3 separate regions of the Homo sapiens genome follow, and regions 2 and 3 are each linked to region 1. The links come from fine-mapping of genetic effects on gene expression. A gene starts in region 1. Each other region holds a variant in brackets. All regions are shown on one strand. Distances are from middle to middle. Region 1 holds the start of PARP12 (poly(ADP-ribose) polymerase family member 12). Region 2 overlaps PARP12 (poly(ADP-ribose) polymerase family member 12). Region 3 overlaps TBXAS1 (thromboxane A synthase 1).

Evidence for each region.
Region 2: its variant is fine-mapped to the expression of PARP12 in whole blood (TOPMed, PIP 0.90).
Region 3: its variant is fine-mapped to the expression of PARP12 in subcutaneous fat (FUSION, PIP 0.95).

What each region holds. Positions count from the first base shown.
Region 1 is chr7:140,059,663-140,067,840 of GRCh38, forward strand. It overlaps PARP12 (poly(ADP-ribose) polymerase family member 12), which reads right to left and starts at 3,289. Exons shown (of 12, transcript NM_022750.4): 1 at 2,860-3,289. The coding sequence starts at 3,185. RefSeq lists a silencer at 2,897-3,216 and an enhancer at 3,227-3,436.
Region 2 is chr7:140,033,880-140,042,057 of GRCh38, forward strand. It overlaps PARP12 (poly(ADP-ribose) polymerase family member 12), which reads right to left. Exons shown (of 12, transcript NM_022750.4): 6 at 7,765-7,960; 7 at 3,836-3,977; 8 at 356-452. Among named protein-coding and RNA genes, the nearest start is that of PARP12, 25 kb to the right of the region's middle. RefSeq lists a silencer at 2,633-2,682. The variant C/T (reference allele first, on the strand shown) is at 3,742.
Region 3 is chr7:139,890,016-139,898,193 of GRCh38, forward strand. All of the region lies in intron 3 of TBXAS1 (thromboxane A synthase 1), which reads left to right. Among named protein-coding and RNA genes, the nearest start is that of TBXAS1, 65 kb to the left of the region's middle. The variant G/GACACACAC (reference allele first, on the strand shown) is at 3,310.

The DNA of each region.
Region 1 (8,178 bases):
CAGTAAAAGGCAACTTCCCTCTCCCACTGCACAGACCAAAAACCCTGAAGCCATCCTTGCCTGCTCTCTTTCCCTCATCTAGCGGAGGTGACAGACATAGAGGAGACTCTGATACGGAGTGGAAAGTGCAACGTCAGCTGTTGTCAGAATCTGTCAGCGCAGAGCGGAAGGGCACCTGAGCCAGTCAGGGCTGGGAGAGAACTGGGGAAGAAATCAGGGGAGCATGCTGGATGGCATAAAGCCTGAGTGGAATACTTAAAGGGTGAGGAGGAGACAGCAAGAGAAAGGAAGAACATTCCAGAAGAGGGGCAAATAATTTGGTGCTGCCAGAGCCAAATATATCTAATAAGTGTAACGATGACTGATGGTAACAATGATAATGACTACTAAAATTTATTGAGCAACTGCCAAATATCGGGGATTGCCAAAATGTTTTATGAGTTAATCATTCAGTCCTCAACCAGCCTGTGAGGGTAGTAATATCATTAACTCCACTTTGCAGATGAGGGAACTGAGACCTGGAGGTAAAGTCACTTGCCCGAAGCCATCAGCTAGCAAGGAGCAGAGCCCAGGTTGAAACAAGGTGGGCTGGATCTTGGGACTGTGCCCTAGACCACCAGGCTCAATGCCTCCTGAGTAGAGGACTAAGAGTCAGGCACCCAGGACTCCGTACCAGCTCTGCAGCAGGACTGATGAGCTATTTCTAAAAGAACTGACCCTGCGGTTCAGGAAGACAAGCAGAGTCACAGGGGAAGCAGAAAAGTGCAGCCAACCACACCCACTCTCCCTAAAGTGAGTCAGAAATGGAAGGTTCAAGAAACTCACCTGTGTAAACCACAAGGAAAAGAGAAAACTGAAGAAAGAAGAAAACTCAAGGTCATCTGAGCCAGTAAATATCACACTACAGATTTCCGAGACAAGTCAGACCTGACCCCACATTTTGGGAACTAGCTTAAGAACAGGGCTGCCATCTTTATTTTACCAAATATGAACATGAAACAGATCTACCAGTTACCCCCATGAGTGGCTCTATCCAGCCACCATTTGCTGTGTGCCTTCCTCCTCGTGGGCTGTTGTTCCCTGCTCTCCCCTGGACTGCCTCATCCCTGAAGGCTGATTTCCCCAGAGTTCCACCCTCAGCCTCTTTTCAGGCCTCAGACGCTACCTCAGATCTGATCCACTCCTGGGGCTGCAACTACAACATACACCGCCCAATATCTCCCAAACCAGCCCAGCGCATTGGGGCCCTGGCCTTCCTCCCAAGCTTCTGACCTGAACAGCTGCCTCCTGGGCATGCTTCCAAACTAAAACCCTCTCTTGCTCTCTCAGTGAACAACACCCAGGCCACCGCAGGAACAGAGACTGAAGAGTCGTCACCTCTCACATATCCTCTCATCACACCGTCACCAGCTATCCCAAATTTCTCACACACATAGCCCTTGGAAAGCTCTAATCTAGATACTTCCAGACAGCTGCTTCCTAGAGGCATTTCCCAGTCACCCTGCATCTAGACAGGGTCACGAGACAGCTTCTGGTCAATGGGATGTGGGTGAAAGGAAATCCACCACTTCTAGACCTGGCCCACAAAAACCTCCCATGCATCCCTCTTTTCGATCAGCCCCCTCGAACTTGATAACCTAGGCTGGCCTCAAGAGCCATGTGCTGAGGGGCACAGAGCGGAGGTCAGTCAGCCTGCATCCCTGAATGACTGTATGGATCAAGGCCCCCACCCCATGCTCACTACTGGGCCTGACATGAGCAAGAAATATCTACTCTATTAAGACAAACATACACACACACACACAAAACAGGGAGCAAGCAAGAAAGGAGGGAGCAGGGGAGGAAGGAATTCTCCTTGATGACTAGCTTCCCAGTGGTTCCCCCACAACATCCTCCCTTAAATTGGCACCCACACCACTACCTTAGACTTCCTAAAACGCAAACCTGATGGTTGCTCTCTCCTGCCATTTTACCCGCCCCATCACCTCCAGGGTGAGGCCCAAATTCTTTAGCATAAACCTCAGCAATCCCTTCCACACATCCCACTGGCCACATGCTATGCACAGAACATGGACGCTAAGTGCTGGGGAGACAGCTGGAGCCTCTGCCCTCAGGGAGTTTCTATTCTACTGGCAGCTGGGTGCCATGAGGAAAATAAACAGTTCCCTGTGACCAAGAGTAAGGGGAGGAAAAATCCTCAAATGGGATGTGATCTTTAGGTTGAGGCCTGAAGGATTAACAAATAGGGCCAACCAAGAGCAAGAAGGGCATTCCAGGCAGAGCAAAGACTCCCAGAAATGCCCAGGCTCCCAGAAATGCCCGGGGGGGGGGGGGTGTTCCAGTCACAGAAGGGTCCTGGGTGGGCAGGGACCAGTGCCCCAGGACCTTGTGGGCGATGGCAGGGAGTCTGCATTTTCCAGTTTGTAAGCAGATTAATAGGGTTGAACTGGGTTTAAAGATCTCTACCAGCTGCTGGGCAGAGAAAACCTTCATTGTCTGGCCTCAAAGCTGGCAAGGGGCGACCCGCGGCGTCGTGGAGTTCCCCTAAGCCGCCGCCTCCCTCCCTCCCCACCCCACACGGCCACACCCGGGTGTTCCACCCGGCACTACCATGCTCTATGTAAATCACTCTCTCCCCCCAGGCGTCTAGAGGACCCCACTCGACCCTGAGTCCCTCGCACTGTGCCAGGTACTCCGCAGGTGCTCATTAAACGCTCGCTTTAGTGAATGACGGTGCGAGGTCAGGGCAGAGCCACCGAATTGTCTGCTCAAACTTCAAGTAGGACCCCCAAGCGGGCTGGAAGTGCGTGAGGGCGCGCAGGACCTCCGCCCGCCGTCGCTCCCGGCGCGGCGCCTTACCCGGCTCTCAGGAACTTGCAGGCGCCGTAGACCATGAACCTGCAGAGGTGGAGCTGCGCGCAGAGCCCCACGCAGCCCGGCTTGGAGCCCTGGTGCGCGCGACACAGGCGCAGCGGCGAGGCGGCCAGCACCACGCGCTCCGGGGCCGCGGCTGCGCCGCCCGCCCGCACCGCCACCACGAAGCGCCCACGCTGCCGCAGCAGCCGCTCCAGCGCGTCGGCGCTCAAGCCCATCCGCAAGCGGCGCCGCAGCTCGGGCAACTCCAGGGCGCCCCCGGCCGCGCACAGCACCTGGGTGACCTCACCGACGACGCCGGCCTGGGCCATGGCCGCTGGGCCTGCTCCCGTCGGACCGCGGGTGGCGCGACGCGGACGGCGGCGGACGCTGGCTGGCGGGCGGCTCTCGCAGGGTGGAGACGCCGGCGGGAAACGAAACCGAAAGCGGCCCCGGGCCGGCGAAAAACAGAACCTGTGCGCCCTCGCCACGCCCCCGGTCCGCAGCTGAGCGGCTGCGCCTTCCGCCTCAGGGCCCCCAGCTGTGAGGCCGCCGCCCGACGGAAGCTCGGGAGCTCTTGAGCTCGGGCGTTCGGCCCGGAGCGCGGGCTGTGGCTGTGGCGGCTCGCGGGGGTCAGTACCTAGTCCCTGAAAATGGCTTCCCTGGATGTTTGAGGGACCAGGAGCCCCTAATGCCGCGATGCTCAGCGCGCCTTCAGTCAGAGGGAGCCTCGAGGGCGGCGGCAGCGCTGGCGGAGCCGGCTGGACGCCGCCGGTTAAAGCCGCTCAGCGTCGCCCAGGCCAAGCCCGGGCTTCGTAGACGGCTCACAGAAACAGGGACAACTGACGGGAGCTCTCACCCCTCGAACAAGTGACAAAAGCGATCACTCCGCATAGAAGACGCACTTAATTAAAGGTTCCTTTCGCCTCGGTGCATCAATGAGTTCCTTCATTTAAACATAAAAGGGTATGTCCTTTAAAAGAGCAAATCCGTGAGCCGAGATTGCGCGACTGCACTCCAGCCTGGGCGACAGAGCGAGACTCCGTCTCAAAAAATAAAATAAAATAAAATAAAATCCGTTACTCCCAGCCCCTGCTAAGTAACGATTGAACAAATATTTTAGAAGACCCTTCAGAGCAAAGGACCCTCTCACACGCTGAGAGCAATGCGAGTTGTTAGAGCCCTTTGAGGAGGTAATCCAGGAATAGCTATTAAAATTGAAAACGCGTGTGACCTTTGACCCAGCAATCTTTCCTCTCGGAATCTTCCAGAAGTAAAAGGAACAGTAAATAAGTTATGTGTGAAAGTGTTACTGGGGGAACCCTACCTGGGAGGTAGGGTTACGTGGGAACAGTGTGGTTGATCTTTAAAGACTATTACGAAGGCTGTTTAACAAGCATGCGTTAGAGCTCCGTGTGCGGATGTAGAGGGGCAGACAGCCATGATGTGGTGGTAAACGAGAAAAGATGGCTGTACAGAAATGTCTAAATAATCAAGTTGAATGATCAAGAATTAATTTTTTTAAATGTCTGAATAACAAAAAGAGAAGCCTGTGTGTGTGTGTGTGGCAGGATATTTTTGAATAAGCACGGAGAAAGATGAAGAAACACACAAGGGTAGTTGAGAGGAGGCAGTAGGAGGTATTAGGAAAATGGAAAAGGGAAGATGAGAGGCAGAAGGATTGTGGGGGGAGAGTACTTACGGTATACGGTATAACATTCACTAAAAATGAATATAAAAATCTTAACTATAGGCCAGGCACAGTGGCTCACGCCTGTAATCCCAGCACTTTGGGAGGTCAAGGCGGGCGGATCACTTGAGGTCAGTAGTTTGAGACCAGCCTGGCCAACGTGGTGAAACCCCGTCTCTGCTAAAAACGTAAAAATTAGCCGGGCGTGGTAACGGGCGCCAGTAATCCCAGCTACTCGGGAGACAGGCAGGAGAATCGCTTGAATCCGGGAGGCAGAGATTGCAGTGAGCGGAGATCATGACACTGCACTCCAGCCTGGGCGACAGAGTGAGACTCCATCTTTAAAAAAAAAAAAAAAATTACCTGTACTATTACTACAAAAATGTAAATAATAAGTGTATGGATAAAGACTAGATAGTAACATGGACAAATGAAAATGAATTTATTTAATTAGGAAATTGAATGAAGGGTTTTCTCTTGGATTTTAATTGTGATTTTAATGTTTTCATTGTATAAAATGTTAATTTTGTTTTTGTTATTGTTTTAGAGACAAGGTCTTGGTCTGTCACCCAGGCTGTAGTATAATGGTACAGTCATAGCTCACTACAACCTGGAACTTCTGGGCTCAAGCGAACCTTCCACCTTAGCCTCCCAAGTAGCTGGGCCTAGAGGCACGTGCCACCATGCCCAGATAATTTTTATATTTTTTTGTAGAGACACTGTCTCATTTGTTGCCCAGGCTGATCTTGAACTCCTGGCCTCAAGCAGTCCTCCCACCTCAGATTCCTAAAGTGCTGGGATTACAGTGAGCCACCACGCCTAGCCTAAAATGTTAATTTTTAATTTAAAATGTTAGGCAGAGTGCAGTGGCTCACGCATGTAATCCCAGCATTTTGGGAGGCCGAGGTGGGTGGATCACTTGAGGTCAGGAGTTCAAGACCAGCCTGGCCAACTTGGTGAAACCCCATCTCTCCTAAAAATACAAAAATTAGCCAGGTGTGATGGTGTGTGCCTGTAATCCCAGCTACCTGGGAGGCTGAGGCAGGAAAATCGTTTGAACCAGGGAGGCGGAGGTTGCAGTGAGTCAAGATCGCACCGTTGCACTCCAGCCTGGGCAACAGAGCAAGACTCCGTCTCAAAAAAAAAGTTAATTTTAGTTGTGGTTTCCATATTTTTTTGCAATAAAATAACATTTTTTAAAAAAGAAAGGAAGAGTGATGTCAGTGAAAATGGTGGATTAAGTATCCCAGCAAGTTTGCCCTTCCATAAAGGAAGCAAGGAAAGAACTGACAAAAATTGTCAGAATCAACTTTCTTAGAGCCCTAGAAATTAGTCACAGGTTTGCAGCAACCCATCTGGCATTTAGTCAGGAAAAACAGCAAACTCTCAGTAAGAACAGCAATATTTATAGTATTTTAATTTACCCTAGTCCTATCGCACCCCCATCTCTAGTTCCATGGCAGCCTTGAAAACTTACAGCCCACGTTCCTAGTACCTGTACCAGAGGGAGGAGACAGGGCTGGAGCTACTTCAAAGTCTCATTCCCAAAGAAGAGTCATTATTTAACCTATCTAGTGGGTCCCTGGAAAAAAATCCTGAAAAGGGTTGTCTTTATTCAACCTCTTTGGAACTAGCTCAGTCCTAAAGGTTTTTCCACCTGAAGAGGGAGTGATTTGTCAAATATTTTAACATTGTAACTGGCTGAGGCAATAGGTAACGGTAGGGGCAAACAATAGACTAACAAAGAAATGTAAAAGGAAACGTTGAAGGAAGAGATGTCCATAGGGGCTTTGAAAAGCTCCAGTATATTTTCAGGAATTTAGAAGGCCATGTGCATGTGTAGGGCTGTGCACATGCTCTGTTAACACCTGAGAAGATCCTAACCTCTCACTACTAGCTGACACTGAGGCTCTGTGCTAGCAGGAAATAAAAGCTATGCAGAGTTGCAAACTGCCTAATGAAAATTGAAGACATACCCCAAAGTGCATACAGAGCCCCTTGGCAAAGACTAGGAGACATATTGGTTCCAGGTGTTTAAGGAAATCTCCATCTAATCATTAGTTGACCAAGTAGAGACTTCAATAGTCACACACAATGAAGATACACACTTTAAAAAATTAGTTCAAAAAAGTTACTAAACAGCAACTATTAGGTTGGTGCAAACCGCAATTATTTTTGCACCAACCTAATACTAAAATAAGCACAATCAAACCCTGAGGAGAGAGGAGTATCTGACTTTGAGAGTTGGCACATTGTTTGAAATGTCCAATTTTCAACTAAAAATTATGTGACTTGCAAAGAAACAAGAAAGTAAGACCCATACAAAGGAAATAAGAGCAATCAATAAAAACTGTTCCTAAGAAAACCCAGATGCTGAACTTTGTAGACAAAGAGTGTAAATCAGCTATTTTTGATATGTTCACAGAGCTAAAGGAAACCATCTCTAAAAATGTAAAAGAAAGGATGAGAATGATGCCTTGCCAAACAGAATATTAATAAAGACACAGAAATTATAATAAGGAACCAATAAAGGTTCTGGAGCCAAAAAGTACAATAACTGAAATGTTAAATTCACTAGAAGGGTTCAGCAGCAGATTTGAGCATGCGAAAGAAAAAAAAAATCAGCAAACTTGAAGATAGATCAATTGATGATTATCTGGTCTGTGGAACAGAAACGAAAAAGAAAAATGAAAAGAGCCTCAGAGACCTGTGGGACACCATCAGATATACCAATAACACAAAATGGAAGTCTTAGAAGGAGAAGAGAGAGAGAGAAAGGAAAGCGAGAATATATGAAGAAATTTTGGCTAAAATTTCTCAGATTTGATGAAAAACATTAATCTACACATCCAAGAAGCTTAATGAATTCCAAGTAGGAAAAACTCAAATAGATCTACACCTAGACACATCATAATCAAACTTTTGAAAACAAAGAGAATCTTGAAAGCAGCAAGAAAGTAGCAACTCATCATGCACAAGGAATCAACAATAAAATAAAAACAGTTAACTTCTCATCAAAAACCATGCATGCAGAGGGTAGTGTGATGATGTATTCAAAATGTGAAAAGAATCAACCAAGAATTTTATATCCAGCAAAACTATCTTTCAGAAATGAAGGAGAAATTAAGATATTCCCAGATAAACTAAAGCTGAGCCCGTTAGTTGCTAGCACTGGGAGAAACACTAAAGAGAGTCGTTTGGGCTGAAAGTGAAAGACACTAAACAGCAACTGGAATTCTCATGAAGAAAGAAAAGCACCAGTAAAGGTAACTACACAGGTAAATGAAAAAGACAGTATAAACGTATTTTTTGTTTGTAACCCCCATCATCTGATTTAAGACAACTACATAATGCAGTAATTACAAATATAAGTTGATGGACAATGTTTTGAAGATGTAATTTGTGACAATAACAGCAGAAGGAAATGGGGAAGGAAAGTGAAGCCATAGAGAAGCAGTTTTTATATTCTGTGGAAATTAAATTGGTATTAATCCAAACTGGATTTTTATAAATTAAGATGTTGCTGGTAATTCCTAGTGCAACCAATAACCAATAAAATACATGAGGCCGGACACAGTGGCTCACGCCTGTAATCCCTGCATTTTGGGAGGCCGAGGCGGGTGGATCACCTGAGG
Region 2 (8,178 bases), 26 kb before region 1:
ATTTCATTATTTCAACATTTAAAAAATTCAAGTCTATGACTCAATGATTCCACAGAAAAGACAAACGGATGGGTTGGCTTCAAGTCTAGACTCGCCTTCAGAGTCTGTCTTCTCCAGAGAATCATCGCAGATCACAACAGGCAGCCTTCTAATTATGCATCACGAAGCTTCTACCCACAGGGTAATTCCCACTCTGGTCCAACTAGTAGAAGACAAACGATAACAGAGTGTGGGAGCACTTCGTTGTACAAGCCAACGGTGCCCGGGTGCTGTCTGAGGCAGGTTTTCTGTCACCACTGCAGAGCACACCCCAGCTGATTACATCCTAAGTACCAAGCCCCCCACTGCAACCTACCAGGTTTGCATGGTCGTCACATCCTGGGGAGACACGTATTTGGGTCTGCGGCAAACCTTTTTAGTTGTGCCATAGACCAGGTTTTTCTGAACGAAGGCTGAAAAAAAACATAACCAGTGAAAAAATATACATATACATATACATACACACAGGATGGCAATGTTTTATAAACACAAATTAGATAGATTTGAAAGCTTATCCAAATGTGTAAAACCCAGAATCAGTCTGTTAAAAATAGGGCCATTTTACACATTTCAAATATTCATAAAGAAAATAGGTATCCTTAGGAGACTGGGTTTAATGAATAGAGGAATGATTAGTAATTGACATATCAATTACACATGAGTGCTTTTAAATTGTTCCTTCCAATCTTGTTTAAACCATTATTTTGCTTGGCAATTTTTCCCAGCTTGGATATAAAAAAGCCTCAGCCCAGCCTGAGATCAAACTACCATGTCTTGAGTTAGTGGGATTCAGAGTTAATGTAAGTTTTATGACTTTGTTTTAGTTAAACTATGGCAGTATTCATCAACCTTTCTAAACCAATAATATCTTTAATAAACAAATTTCTTGCTTCCCCACCCTCAAGAATCCCATACTCATCCTGAGGATTTGGGGTTGGGGGAACTGGCCCCTCAAGTTGAAAAATGACAAATACCTAGCAGTGTTTGTTCTGTCCTTGCCTGCCAGGAAAACCCTCTCAAGTCTTACATTTTTTTTAAGAGATGGGGTCTTTTGCTTTGTTGCTCAAGTGGACCTTGAACTCACCAGCTCAAGTAATCCTCCCACCTCAGCCTCCCAAGTAGCTGGGACTACAGGTTTGTGACACCATGCCCAACTAATTTTGTTTTCATTTACAAAACATTTTAATATTAAAAATTATAGGTGTCCAGAATTAGCCTTATTGCAGTTGAGCATAAACTGGATGGTTATCCAAGTGTGTGTCTCTTAGGTTGCAGCTGAGATGGTCACTATTCCTGGAGGTCCATCCACATTCTCATTCAGAGCCCATGATCCAGATGCAGCAACCATGACCCCTTCTGTTACCCACTACTCAGCCGCCCATCAAGACCATTCTCACTGGCATATTTAAATGGGTGTTACTGGCCTACTGGCCATCTGTGATGAATCTTAAATGGCTTTCACTGGTGAAATTAAAAGTGAGCTAAGATACGTGGACTGGCTAAATGTGTGTCAGACACATTCCCTACCCTTCTATGGACACAGTAAAGTGAGGTCTTTTCCCTAATTTACCCTTCCAGAGGATACCCTAGGCTACAGCCTGTCTTTGGGGAATTCTGCCCCGTCAGACACCACCTAACAGGATGCTAGAATTCTGCCTCTGGAATCCTGGCATTTGCCTTGAGTGAATCATTTATGACAAGAGTCCCTAAAAGGGCAGAACTGAATCATCCCTAAACCTTCAGAACAACTCATTTGGGCTCTTTTGTGTGTTTTAAATGTACTTGCTTCCTAATAAACAGCTAATAAATATGTGTGGCAGTTTGCTTTGAGACTTGCTTTATACTTAGAAGTGAAGTTGTGGGGGAAGAAGCCAATTCATCTCAAGCTTCTTTTATGGATACTGGTATCTACCAAAAGAAGGAGGAGGAAGAGGAGGAGGAGGGGGAAGAGGAAGAGGAGGAGGAAGAGGAAGAGGAGGAGGACGAGGAGGAGGACAAGGAGGAGGACAAGGAGGAGGAGGAGGAGGAGGAGGACGAGGAGGAGGAGGAGGACGAGGAGGAGGAGGAGGAGGAGGAGGAGGAGAAGGAGGAGAAGGAGGAGAAGGAGGAGAAGGAGGAGAAGGAGGAGAAGGAGGAGAAGGAGGAGAAGGAGGAGAAGGAGGAGAAGGAGAAGAATTGTGCCCACTCAAATGGGCTTCGGTCAGTCTGCAGGAATCATAAACTGCACGTGTGTGCTCTTCCCCATCCCTATTATGAGGTTCTGTTATGTCCCCAGGGTGTGGCCTAGGTTGGGAATGATCAAGGTAGTATCTGACATTTCTATCTGTTTTGATATTTTCCAGATATTTAAAAGAAATATTCCAGATTGCTGTCAGCAGCAGTCAGATGTATGCTTGCCACACAGTCCTGACCTTCAGGGCAGTCCTGATTTGATTAACGTCTATGCTCTCACTGGTCCCCTCTCATGCACTGGTGTGTGTCAGGCCGTGGAAAGCAAACCAGACCACACGTGGCTGGCGCTCTCCAGCAGAGGCAGTTCGCACTCTAGAGGAGAAAAACTTCACCGTAAAGGGCATGTCAAGGGGGTAGTGATCTACCCTAAGCAAAACCACAAGTGCCACGAAACCACAAGCAAAACCAAGGCCAGAAACAGACAGCCAAAGTGGTTTTAGGATAATTCACCAGACACTTCACTATACTCCACATAGAATAAACGTCTGCAAAAATAAAGAAAACCATAAACTGTGTTTAAAGGAAGGCCCACTTACTCCCTTATAAAATGCTGAACATTCAGAAGGACTCAGAGTTTAAAATGTGAAATACAGGCAAAACGGAACTGAATAAAGCTGGACCGATACACTCATGAGGAAATGGCTTAAGAGAAACTACACAAAATTAAAACTTAAAAAAAAAAAAATTCTCACACATCAGCCACTTGGAGGAACTGGCCAAAGGGTGGCCTATTTCTCTCTGTAAGGCAACCAGGATGAAACATTTCAGCCCCAGCCTCAGGACACCATGAGTGCACGAAAATCTGCTTCTCAGGGACTTTCAATTACTCTGTGTCCTACCATCCGTTAAACCCATCAACTCCAAAGTCGCCTACAGAAAAGATGGCAGCAGGCCAGGCGCGGTGGCTCATGCCTGAAATCCCAGCAAACTGGGAGGCCAAGGTGGGTAGAACGCTTGAGGACAGGAATTCAAGACCAGTCTGGCCAACATGATGAAACCCCGTCTCTATGAAAAATACAAAAAATTAGCCAGGTGTGACGGCTCATGACTGTAATTCCAGCTACTTGGGAGGCTGAAGCACGAGAATCACTTGAACCCGGGAGGCGGAGGTTGCAGTGAGCCAAGATCACGCCATTGCACTCCAGCCTGGGTGACAGAGCGAGACTCCGTCTCAAAAAAAAGATGACAGCAGCACTGCTGCAGCAGGGAGTGAAAGGCAGACACTGCACGACGGAGCTGCTCGGACACCTGTCAGGGACTCAGGTTAGTCCTCGGATACAGCAGGACAACCATGCTACATGCATGCTGACCCTGCTTGTCCTCCACACTTGGGGCTCCTGCCCCTCCTGGGGTCCATTCTCCTCACATCCTTGATGCAGTTCTTCCTCCACTGCACAGGGCCAGTGTCATCTGTCTCCAGGTCTACCTTGGACCTGGTACCTTGCTTTTCTTTCCTGTACCCACCCAGGC[C/T]CTCAGTATGTGCACACGGCTCCTCCAGGGTTAAGGTGTAGGGACAGAGCCAACACAGGCAGGCTCTGCTGGGCGAGGGCAGGGCACAGGATACCTTTGAAATCTAACTCGTAGTTGTGCTTTCCGGCCTGGAACTTCAAGGTGGCTGCCTGGCCGTCAGACCCCGGTGTACAGTAGGCCAGGTAGGCCTTCTCCACGTCGCTACTGCTGACAGTGGTCACAGGGTGCACCGTGCCCTGCGATGGAAAGCCAGACACTTTATGAAGGCAAGAAACTGCGTGATGAGGAAAAACGCTGGTGGCACCCACGCCACATTTCAGAGGTGCTCCTGGTGGACAGTCCTGTGGTGGGGAAGATGGAGGCCAGGGAGCATGGTATGGCAGGAGAGAGAGGCACAGAATGGAGGCAACATGACTGTCTCCTGAAGCTGCCCTAGCAAACACAATGCAGTAAATATGGGTCCTGCTGAGCAGGAAGACAGGGATGGGAGCAACGGAGAGGAGGGCACTCAAGTCACCTAGGACAGAGGACACGGCAGCCATTCAAATGCCGGCAGAACAGCAACAGCGACTTCTGGAGTGCTGCTTGACTGGGCAGCCCAAGCCAGGCTGGTCTTACCCGTCTATTCACGTTGCAACCATCCTTTAATCAGAGCTCGGTCCTCTTCCTTGCGGTTTTCTTTTTCTGGTCCCTAGGAGCATTCATCTATTTTTTAAATTATCCATTTCAATCCCTATCCTTCCACAATTACCTACAGGAAATCTCGTAGCTTCAGCTGGAGTGAGTTTGAATTCTGGCTCCCAAACCTGCTGGCTCTATAACTTTGGCAAGTTATCTTAACCTCCCTGAGCCTCCGTTATCTCAAGCTTATAATATGAATAATAGTACTTAGGCCATATTCATCCCTTTATACAACAGGACTATATTGTCCTCACAGGGCTGGAGAAATCATTTAAATAAGGCATGTGGAGCACTTAGTACAGTGCCCAGAACAAAACATACTCAATAAATGTTACTATTATCATCACCGTTCTTATTAAATTTGAGATTACACTGACAACTAAAATTAAAGTTATTCAACCTATAACCAACTAACTCCCTCTGTCCCTGTCAATTTTCCTGCTCCCCCTACTGCTACCATCCTAGTTCTCCTGGGTCACAAGCTTTAGGTGTTACTAACAGAACAAAAGTGAGACAAGACAAGAGTCACCCATGCCTCTGCGCAACTGAGTCCAGCAATGGAGAAGGGGAAAAAAAAGTACCCAGATATTTCAAAGCCTCAAGCACAAGGTCCCACACAGGTCTCACGGGTGCTCTAGACGCTGAGATGGGTAACTAAGAATGACCAAGGAAGGGTGAGACCCAGCAAAGGTTTCTTGGAAGAAAAAGATGCCTGAGCCAAGGCCCAAGCCCGAGGGATGACATGAGTTGGCCCCATGAGGACCATAAGGGGCGGGTGTAAGAGGTATAATGGTTTGTAAAGCAGCCTCCTAGTTTACGGTCTCATAGCGGCGCCTAAGTTTCTCTCTCTGAAGTCTGTCTTCCTTCAAAACCAAGCCATTAGACTAGAGTCCGGGAGGAAGAGGATGTGGCATAAAAATCCCTTTCTGACAACAAGAGGAAAGGAAAAGAAAACAATCCCTCCCCTTTGGGCCTGAGGAAATGAAGCTCTGAGTCAGGGAAACAGAGAGGAGAAGCAGCAGTCAGATGCAGGCGTCCTGCCCCGACCCAGGCCTCCAGTCAAAATCCCTGCAGATGGATGGTCACAGAGGGAGGGAAGATGCAGGTGGATGAGCAGAAAGCAAAAAGCAAAGAGTTTTTTTGCCCTCAGTGGGAGGTTTGGAAGGAGAAACCAACAATGGCAGCCATATTATGTGTTAAGCTGAGAAAGGTCTCGGTTTAGCACCTGGAGGCACCAAGTGAGATGTGGAAGGAATGACAGATTCCCACATGTCCTGTGGCAGGACCAGCAGGTGTCTGATTTTGACATGAAATGTTGGAGTACTTCTTGAGCTCAGACAGAAAAAACTTAGCTTTTCTGGGAATCAAGAGAAAACTGTTTTGAAGTGGCAATTAACAGAAAACTAAAAAAGAAACCTAAATGTGGGGTTATACCAGAAACGTGTAGGAAAGGGAGGACAAGACAAACCAGATCATCCTAGGCTGTCCAGCCTGAAGCCACCAAGCCTACATGTGTTTCTACGCCCCCACTAGCACGTGGCATATCAATAACATCCACACGCGGTTCATCCCCAGACATTCTCAAACTGCTCGCCATGAGTTTCTGCACTGCCACAGAGGAAGAGGAGCACAGGAAAGAAAGGGGCACGCTCCAGGTGTTGGCTGACTGGAGGAGACCGGCCCCAACAACCAGAGCTGTGATGAGACACCACCGGGGAACCCTACTTTTGCATGGGTTGCCCAGAGCCCTGTGTCATCTCATTCAGCAACCAGCGGTCTCCTCCGAGAAGCCGGACAGATCCCCAAACAGAATGAACGTGATGGTCACATCTGCTAAGTGTGTTGCGCCTGCCATCTGTCCCTCCATCTCCAGGAGAGCCGGGATTCCCGGAGCATGATTGGGCAGTCATCCTCTCCCCCTCCTCCATGTCACGCCAGCCTCTTCCCCTCACGCTCCTGACCAAACCCAGAGAGCTTATCTGGATGAGTCCCACAGGGCAGGTCAGAGAGAGTCCCAGGTCGCCCACGACGGGAGGGAGACAGGTGGGAAAGGCAGGCAGGGCAGAGCAGCAAGCAAGGAGAGGCTGGTGCTGGCAAGAGGGGAGCAGGGGAGGAGAGGGGAAAGGAAGTAGTGCAAGGCAGCAAGGCCATCGCTGAGAGTGACCATCTCCAGCTGACCAACAGACACTGTCAGTAACACCCTCCTCCTTCCATCAGCCAATGTCTATTTCCTGAGGACTGGCTATGCATCATTCCACACACGGGATACGATGGGGCAAAAGAAAAGACAAAAGTCCCTGCCCTCATGGAGCTTACATTAGAGCATCACCAGAGTTAAAGGGCATTCTGAGTGCAGTTAAGAATAAGAAACTAAAGCTTCAATATAGCCTCTTGAAACCCAGAAGAGTACAAAATACCTATCGATTTTCATTTTGGAGGGTGAGTTCTTTATCAATGGTGCCTTCCCTAAACTTGTACTTGAGATGGAATCTCGCTCTTTCGCCCAGGCTGGAGTACAGTGGTGTGATCTCTGCTCACTGCAACCTCTGCCTCCCGGGTTCAAGTGATTCTCATTCATACCTCAGTCTCCCGAGTAGCTGGGACCACAGGCATACGCCACCACACCTGGCCAATTTTTGTATTTTTAGTAGAGATGGGGTTTCACCATGTTGGCCAGGCTGGTCTTGAACTCCTGACCTCAACTGATCTGCCCACCTCGGCCTCCCAAAGTGCTGGGATTGTAGGCATGAGCCACCACGCCCGGCCTAAACTTGTATTTCTATAAGTGACCAGGGGACTCCCTTTAATCTGACCCATCCACAAACACCTGCGAAGAATTGACAGCAACTATTTTTTGTTATTTGGCTTGGATTCCAAACCTATACATGATATAAATCAATTTTCTTATATTTGCCTACCTTCTGTAAAGTTGCAGAAATGGCAGACAACCAGTTTGAAAAGCCTTTACCTCTATATCACAGCTACACAAACACACTTGCACACATAGGCACCAGCTGTGGGGTTAAGTTACCTGTTCAACAAGAGAAACATCTTTCTATCCCATTTAATAAAACCAATGAAGAAACTTGATCTCACTACAAATTTGTCATTCAGTTCTCATGAGCCAACAGATGGAAGCTCTTCAAAGATGAAAGCTCATACAAATAAATTCCAACTTATCTAGTTTTGCCATAATTCTCCCAAAGCAAGTGAGCCACACTGGCACCTGGGGATCCTCAGCTCTCTCAAGGATGCCCCTGGCAACAATATGGGGGCTCTTATTTGGCTCCTCTCTTACAGATCCTCAGGACAAAACATTCACCCTCTTTCCATCACACTTACCTGTCTTCCATATTCCTGCCAAGAACCAAACTCATCACTCCAGTACCAAATCCAGTCAGTGGTGAGGATGAAGTGTGGAGGTTTGGTGACAGAGGAGGCCGTGGAGAGGCGGCGAGCCTGGGTAGCACCGTAAGTCATGGCGTTAAAGTTCAGACAATGAGAGTGAAAGGTACTGGCTGACTCAGAGCACAGGATCCTACAGAAGAAAAACAGCAGCAGACTGAAAATCCCACCAGCCAAGCAGACACAGGTCCCTCAGCTTGAGAACATATAGCTGGGAGATGCGAATAGTAAATGTGGCATGCACATTTTAGAAAAAGTTCCCAGAGGTAGAGGAAACTGCTTTTTCAGATCAGTTTTGAGGTATAAAAATATCAAAATCAAGATAATGTGGGAGACTAGTTATGACGAAAA
Region 3 (8,178 bases), 170 kb before region 1:
TCCCACCCTCCAACAATCGAATGGGGTGTTTCCCGCAGTGTGTCCTTGAGACCATCGTTTCCACTGACAGTAATAATTGTTACATGGGGAATAGCAAAAGGAACACAGGTCTCTTCAGTGTAGAAAGACTCCGAACCTTTCATGCAGCAATGTCCTTCGACAATCTCCAAGTGAGAAATTTAGGATGCAGTCTTTTTTTTTTTTTTTTTTTTTTTTTTGAGACAGAGTCTCGTTTTGTCGCCCAGGCTGGAGTGCTGTGGCGCGATCTCCGCTCACTGCAAGCTCCGCCTTCCGGGTTCACACCATTCTCCTGCCTCAGCCTCCCGAGTAGCTGGGACTACAGGCGCCCGCCACTGCGCCCGGCTAATTTTTTGTATTTTTAGGAGAGACGGGGTTTCACCTTGTTAGCCAGGATGGTCTCGATCTCCTGACCTCGTGATCCACCCGCCTCGGCCTCCCAAAGTGCTGGGATTACAGGCGTGAGCCACCGCGCCCGGCCAGGATGCAGTCTTTATTTGACCACAGAACATTTTTCCCCCCAGAGTATTTCTTGGGACTAGGATATGGAGAACAGGCTTTGAGAGAAAACACTGATCTAATAAATACCAGCATTTTACTCCTAAAGAATTCCCCATAAAAGACAACCATTAATAGAAATAGTTTACTTCACCATTGTGAATTATCAACATTACAACCAGTAATTACTAATTACCTCCATTTTGAGTTGATGTTTTGGGGGATGTTTTTATCCTGCAGTGCTATGGAGAGGCTGGGAACGCACTGCTGCCTGTGTTGCTTGTTTATTTATTTCCTTTTATTCCCAGTGTTCTCTCATTCCCCTTCCCATCCCCAATAGTCAACCATTCCAATTGTGTTTAATGTGTTTTTTTTTCACATGTTCTTGCAAATTGTGCATTATCATTTCGTGGATATTATCCTTAGTTTATGCCAATAGTACTGCCGTAGATCTCATTCTATTCCTTAGTTTTTTCATTTAGCACTGTGCTTTCAAGGTCCAGCACAGAGTTCCCATTGAGTCTGCTGCTTCCCATGGCTGCCTGACATGCCACGGATGCCTGTACCTACTTCACCTGTCCACTGTCCCAGGAGGAGATACCCAGTGGCCCTCAGCAAGCAACCCTGCAGTGGGCATCCTTTTATGGGACCTCTACGGACCTGTGGGAGAACTCTATGGGCTATCCATCTTGCCCTATGATTATAATATATATATATTTATTTATTTATATATATATATTTGTTCCCTAAGGCCACTTACATATTAATTGCTAATAATCTGAAAGTGTTTTCCAGCACTCAGTGTGGATCATGTCCCTCCAATATAGTATCTCCCATGGCCATCCCAATAACATCCCTGAGAGTTTGGCCGGGCTAGTTGCATTATCCTCAATCATACAGAAACATGAGTGACTAGAATGAAAAGGGCGTGTGGCTAGTAAGAGGTGTGAGCAGAGTTGCACAGGTTCTTTTTATTAATCCAAAGCTCTTTCCATTCCACTGCCTCTTCTTGCTGTTTCTTCAACATTCCAAACAGTCCTGCCTTAGGACGTTTGCCATAACAATACGTAACATAATTATTTGTTGGTTGACCTGCTTTCCTGGTAGAATGCAAACTTCACGAGGGTAGGGACTTGCTCTCTTGTTTGTGCTGCTATTTCCAGTGCCTAGAATGGTGACTGACACATAATAGATGCTCAGTAAATATCTGTTGCGTGAACAGAAGAATCATCTCTAAGTACATGTCTTTCATGTCAGATTTGTCTCCAAGGAAACTTCAAACAGGAAGGTCTTGCTATTTGGCTAATTTGGGTAATGGTACTATTTTACTGGAGACAAATAAAAGGAATTAGGGGGAGAGTCTCATATTAAAATAGAGGGTTGGATAAGGGGAGTTTATACTCTTTCCCCATCAGTGGCTTTTATGCTCTATCAATTCAGTAGTTAGCCCATCAAAGTAAAAAATTGAATTACACTGTGTAAGGCCACCTTGGGATCCAAAAGATAAAAGAGAAGATAAGGGACATGTTCTCCTGATACACTAGCTGGGCTCCACTCACCCAAGTCATTAATTGGAGTCTTATTGGGCTACTGCCTCATATCCTACTCCCGAAGAGCTGATACCTCCCATAACCTCATTCTTAGGGTCAGCTGGCCGTACCAGAAAGAGCACTGGATTAGGAGCCAGATCTGGGTTCTGGTCTTAGCTCAGCTATCCCTACTGATGGGACTAGAATGAATGAGTCATTTATCATTTTCTTCCCTTTAAAAAATACTTGAGGCCAGGCTCAGTGGCTCACCGCTGTAATCCCAGCACTTTGGGAGGCCGAGGCGGGTGGATCATGAGGTCAGGAGTTCGAGACCAGCCTGACCAACATGGCGAAACCCCGTCTGTACTAAAAAAATACAAAAATTAGCCTAGTATGGTGCCGCGCACCTGTAATCCCAGCTACTCAGGAGGCTGAGGCAGGAGAATAGCTTGAACCTGGGAGGCGGAGGTTGCAGTGAGCTGAGATCATGCCACTGCACTCCAGCCTGGGCGACAGAGTGAGACTCTGTCTCAGAAACAAAACAAACAACAACAACAACAACAAAACAAAACAAACAAAAAAACTTGAGCACCTACCTATCTCACAGGTCTGACATGAGACTCAAAGGAGCTCTCAGAGCCCTCCCAGGGCAGACTGTCCAAGTATCAGGGATTCCAACTGGGATTCCACTGCTCCTTGGTGTTCTTGTAGCCAGCCTGCATCTTGGGGAGTCTGCCGAATTCAGAAGCCCCATACCTCACCAGCTCGGGGTGAGCTTCTTGAGTCCTGCACATGGGTCCTCTCACCCTCATGTCTCCAGGGACTCCTCCGCCTGGGTAAGGGGAGACAGCACACATCATCCAGTCCTCTCCCCTCTTTGGGCCTCATTTTCCTAGCTATGAAATGAGGGGGTTGGGCTAGAATGATCATCTTGAAGCTTCCCTCCATCTCTAAAGTATTATGATCAGTGCTTTATTATTTTTTCCCTGCCTCTGATTTCTCTCCCACTGTGTCTGAAATTCTTTTGCCATTAAATTTTCTCTTCTTTCAGAGTTGCATATCTGGGCTTTTTATACCTAGTCCTGGACAGCACATTCTTCCCATGGCACTGGGCTTCCTCCCCTGGCCTCACTGTCTTTTCAGGAGTGACATTAGCTTTTTCCCAGACCGTGTATTCCTGTTCTAAGCCCACACATCATTTGGGGAGAGATGATTTTGCCATGTACTCTCACAAATATATGTCCTGCACATATTCTATGGAATA[G/GACACACAC]ACACACACACACACACACACACACACACACACACACACACACAGCTCCCTTCAATACCCCCGAATATACATGCCTGGGCATAACGTGTGGGCAAAAATATTCAGGGACAGCCAAATGACTATTTTAATGTTCCTTTGTCCCTGCAGGGCCATCGAACTATTTATTTAGTAGCTTGATGCTGTTTGCATCAACAACTTTGCCTTATAGGCTGTTCTTCATGTTTATGATTCTTACTGTGAAAAAAATTGCTTGCCTAACATCTGTTCTGAATTTGTTTTTTCTTTATTTTTATTTATCTGTTCCCCATTGAATTACATTTGCACCAAGAACAGTAACTTGAATTGTAATCTTCAGTGTCCTTCAGGATTTCTGCACACTTCAATACATCTCTTAATTACTCTTTTTTTATTGTTATGAGATATACATATATACCCATGCTCACACTGGCAGATTGGTTTGTAGCTTACCTCTGCCTGTCCCCCTCTGGGGACTAAGTTTTATTAACTGAATAAATTAGATGGGTGGGTATATTCAATAGAGTAGGGAGGTTTATCATTACAGGTTTCTTTCAGATATTTTTCCCCCTTGCTGCCCAGTTCTCTCCTTTAGCCATAGCTCTGTTTTGGAGAAAGCTTTATTGTAGCTTGACAGAGTCATAACTCACCAGGATGAGAAGGACCACTTCATCTTATAGATGAAGAAGCTGAGGGCCAGGGGGGAGGCTATCTTCCTGCCTGCTTCCAGAAAGCGTGGAGAATAGCTGCCCCAGCGCCATTCTTGAGAGGTAGAGCACAGCTTGACCCTGCCTCTCCAGGCTGCCAAGCCTGGGGGCTTTCCTTAGCAGCAGGAGGCCTCCTGGGACTACCGTGCCACCACCCACGCACCACACCATTGCTGCAGACCCAGTCCTTTGCAGAGCAAGCATTTTGCATGTTTTCCATGGGTGTGGCTGGGTTGGGGTGGTTAGGAAAGTGTGCAGAAGATGGTGTGGGAGAAGGGCAGGGCATGGAGAATCACAGTGGGGTCTCTTCATGCTTGTGGACTCTCCTGGTGGAGCTGGTTCTCTGGCCTCCCTCAGGCTGGCTCGTGTGACTGGAGCCCTCATTAACCCCCTGCTCTCACCACTTAGAAACCAACCCAGGGACCAACCAAGCATATTCCCAGCAGTAGGCAAGAAGATCCCTAAAGAAGGGAAGTGAGACCTGCGTTTATTCCCCTGATACTTGGGAAATCTAGCAGATATAGAGACAGTGACCCAGGTATCCAAGGGATTGGTCCAAATTCACCATCCTGTAACTCGAAATGCAATGCTCTTTCTACCATCGGTTCTCCATTCTTTCTGGAAGGTGTGTCCCCCTTCTTCCTTTTGCCCTTTCCCACACTCTTTGGGGGTCTATGTCCATGTCTTCCAATGGCACAAAGTCAGAGGGGATGGTTTCCCCATGTCTTGAAGTGCTCACTGCTGGCCCTGCTCCAGATGTTGTCCACTCAACAGACATTTCAGTCTTTGCTACGTGTACAGCATGGAGCTCATGGCAGTGGGAGAGACTACCCATCCCCTCCAGAAAATGTATCATTCATGTCTCTTTTCCCAAAGAAAGCTGACATCTAATTTAGGAGAAAAACCCAGACATGGGCCAAGTTGCTCAAGAATGCCAGGTAGTATAGTGGCTGACTTCTACAAGAGAAGGACAGGACACCCAGAAAGAAACCCAGAAGAACAGGAAACCCAGAAAGAACAGGAAACAGGATTCTGGGTAGAATCATGGACCAGTGAAGGCAGAGAAGGCTTCTAGGAGGAAGTAGGTCTTGAAGAATGAATAAGGGGGAGGTGAGGGCAAAGAATGTTCCACTCAGTAAAAACAGCCAGAGAAAAGCCCTTGAGGTGGGAATGGTTGGGGGAATGGAAGTTGTGGCTGGAGAGAGGGACACAGATGGATTGGCCAGTCATCATCACACACTGGAAAGCCTTCGTTGCCAGGCGAAGACATGTTTGTTATCCTTTTGTTACCCTTGCTAATGGCCTGTAAGCTGCTTAAAGCCATGTCTTGCAGGTCAGTTTCTAGAGATGGGGTTTGAGGGGCAAGATGTTTACTAGGGATCAGTGAAGGGAAGGAGGAGAAAGCTGTCAGTCATCCCCCAGTAGGACAAAATGCCACCTCTCTGTGTTCCTACTCAGCCCGGCCACTGGATGTGGGCTTTACCAGGAAGGGGGTGACCCCAGTGACATGGATCTCAGCAGCTGAGGCTGGCCCTGAAGGAGCTAACAGCTGGAGGCTCCCTGCTGACCACAGTCTCGGCTGCTGGACAGCAAGTCCTTCCCAGAAGGGGGATCTGGACGACATGTCTTGATGTCATCACATCATGGGAACTCTAGTTCAAATGAAGTTTTTGGCAGAATCACCAGGTTGAAGTGGGAGGTGATCTGAGGGTTCTGTATGCTGAGCTTCCCCACAGAGGACTCTTTGCCCCGCTAGACCTGAGACTGGCTGGGGCCAGCCACAAAGGCAGGCCCATGGCTGATGGAGCCAACAGGGCACCTCTGCAGGGGGCACCTCTCCAGGGTGGTAGGAGTGAAATAGAGCAGGCCCCAAGTTTTAGAAAATGACCAGGGGCTGGGTGAATTTTGGAAGCAAGATAAATGTGGATAAAGAGAAAAAAGGATTCTGAGGTTTCAAGTCTGGCTTCAGAGTTGAAAGCTCCTTCTGCCAGGAGGAGTAATAGGGAAGCCAAGAGGATAAAATGATTTCCCAGTCCTGGAAAGGCAGCTTAAAACCATCCTTCCACTTGCTCTTAAGGGTGAGGCGCTCTGCTAGCTTCTCAGGGATGCACGGACAGATAAGATGGGCTTTGTCTTGAGAGAACTTGCAGAGCGATCAGGAGCTTATCAATAAACAGAGGGTGATGCAGGTCAGTAGAGGAAAGGACCAGGTGCCACAGAAACTACAAGGAGCGAAGGGTCCATGAAGCCTTCACAAAGAGGGGCAGGTGACCCGACTGTCTGAAGTTTTCCAAACTAACAAGAGGGCAGCCGGCACTTTAGAGGGTAAATACTTGCAAAGAGGCAGAGCAGGGGGAATACTGCACATCTGGGGAACCATAAATAACTTTTTCACAGCAAGAATGAAAGGCTGTGGTTCCCAAACTGTGTGCTGAGACACCCCAGGGTGCCACAGTGAACTCACAGGGGCTTCCTGGGCTATGGTATTTTACACATTCGTGACAAATACAGCAACATCTGTCAGGCACTGTAGGAACTGCTTTCAGTTTATGTGTATTATTTCTTCAAATGTCCACTAACTTGCTAGAACATGTATACTTATAAAGTTGTTTGAACTTATCTACTTAGAAATGAGACTGTGGGGTTCTTCTTTTGGCCTGGGGAGCGCTACGAAGACATTACTGAGTCACTAAGGGCACCGTGAACTGAGAACGTTTGGAAACACAGGTATAAGAGGAATGGGGTGAGGAGAGAAGTCAGGAGCTCCTGAAGGGCCCCTGCTTGGTTACAAGTGAAGAAGCTTAAACTTGCTTCAAATGATGGAGAACCACTAGAGATTTATAGGGAATAGAACGACACAGTCAGCTTCTGTTTTACAAAGGTGATTGGCCTTGGCGGGAGGGTTGGTTTGGAGACAGAGAGCTTCACTGGGAGCTCCTCAGTGGTCCAGGCGAGAGAGACAGGGCCTGAAGCCAGTTGGCATTAGACGTTGGAGCTGGAATACAGCACACTGCGTTGACATCATGGAATTCCCACTGCATGCTTAACACCATAATGAACACTAGACATCAAAGATAAGAAGACAAGATGTGTTTCCACCACTCACAAACGAGCAGAAAGACAGTCAGGAAAAAAATTACAATTACTAGAGAACCACTAGGAGTCAACCAGGCAAGAAAAGAGGAGCCGTTCCAGGCAAGGCAGGGGGAACAGCATGTGCAAAGGCATGGGAGTGAGAGATCATGGAGGGTTTCAGTCGGTATGATCAGGATTGGCTCTTGGCGGTGGGGTGGGGAGGGGGACCGGGGGCAGGCAGGCGGGGGGAATAAGGAGGCACAAGGCCAAAGAACAAGGCAGGGAGCAGGGTGTGAAGGACATCATGTGCCACATGCTAAAGACTTGGCAAACCATTGAAGGGTGTTCAGTAAAGAAGCAGCATACTCAGATTTGCACTTTACCAAGTCCTAGGTGGATAAGTGGAGTTGGGGCCCACATGTGGACAAGCAGCAGGTCAGAATGATGGAGACAGAAACCTCTGAGTGGGAGGTCCAAAGTCTGGCCAGGAAGAGGACCAGGGATTGTACCAGCCTGAAAAGGGCAAAAGAAAGTTGCTGAACAGGCTCTACAAACTCCTGAAAGGGGAGGGGCTGAGAAAGCGCTGGTTCGGTCCATTGATCTCTGCAGGGCTCTGTGAATTCAGGGTGGACCCCAGGCATGAGTACTCTGAGGGTAACATGGGCAGATGTTGCCTGACCCTGCTCAGAGTGACAGACAGGAGCCCTGGGAAAGCAACTCCAGACTCCATGGCCTATGACTGTGTCACTGGCTCCTCAAGAAAACTCTCCCTGGTAGCTGAGTCTGCTCTGTCATTCAGCTGACTCAAGCCTCTTGCTCTAATGACAGACGGGAGAGCTGACCCAAAAGGGAAAGACACTCCATGAGCCAAGCAGGGACAGAGCCCCAGGACTCTGGGGACCCTGCTTTCTCCATGGCACCCTGTGGACCATCCAGCCCCGGAGGAGCGCCTGTGAGTCAAATGCCCAGGTACTCCCAGCACTGGACTTCTCCTTAACTTTCTCTGAACTTTCTGGAAGTTGAGCATCTCAGACACTCACAACTGTGATCTGCAGTAGCGTCTACCCCTTTC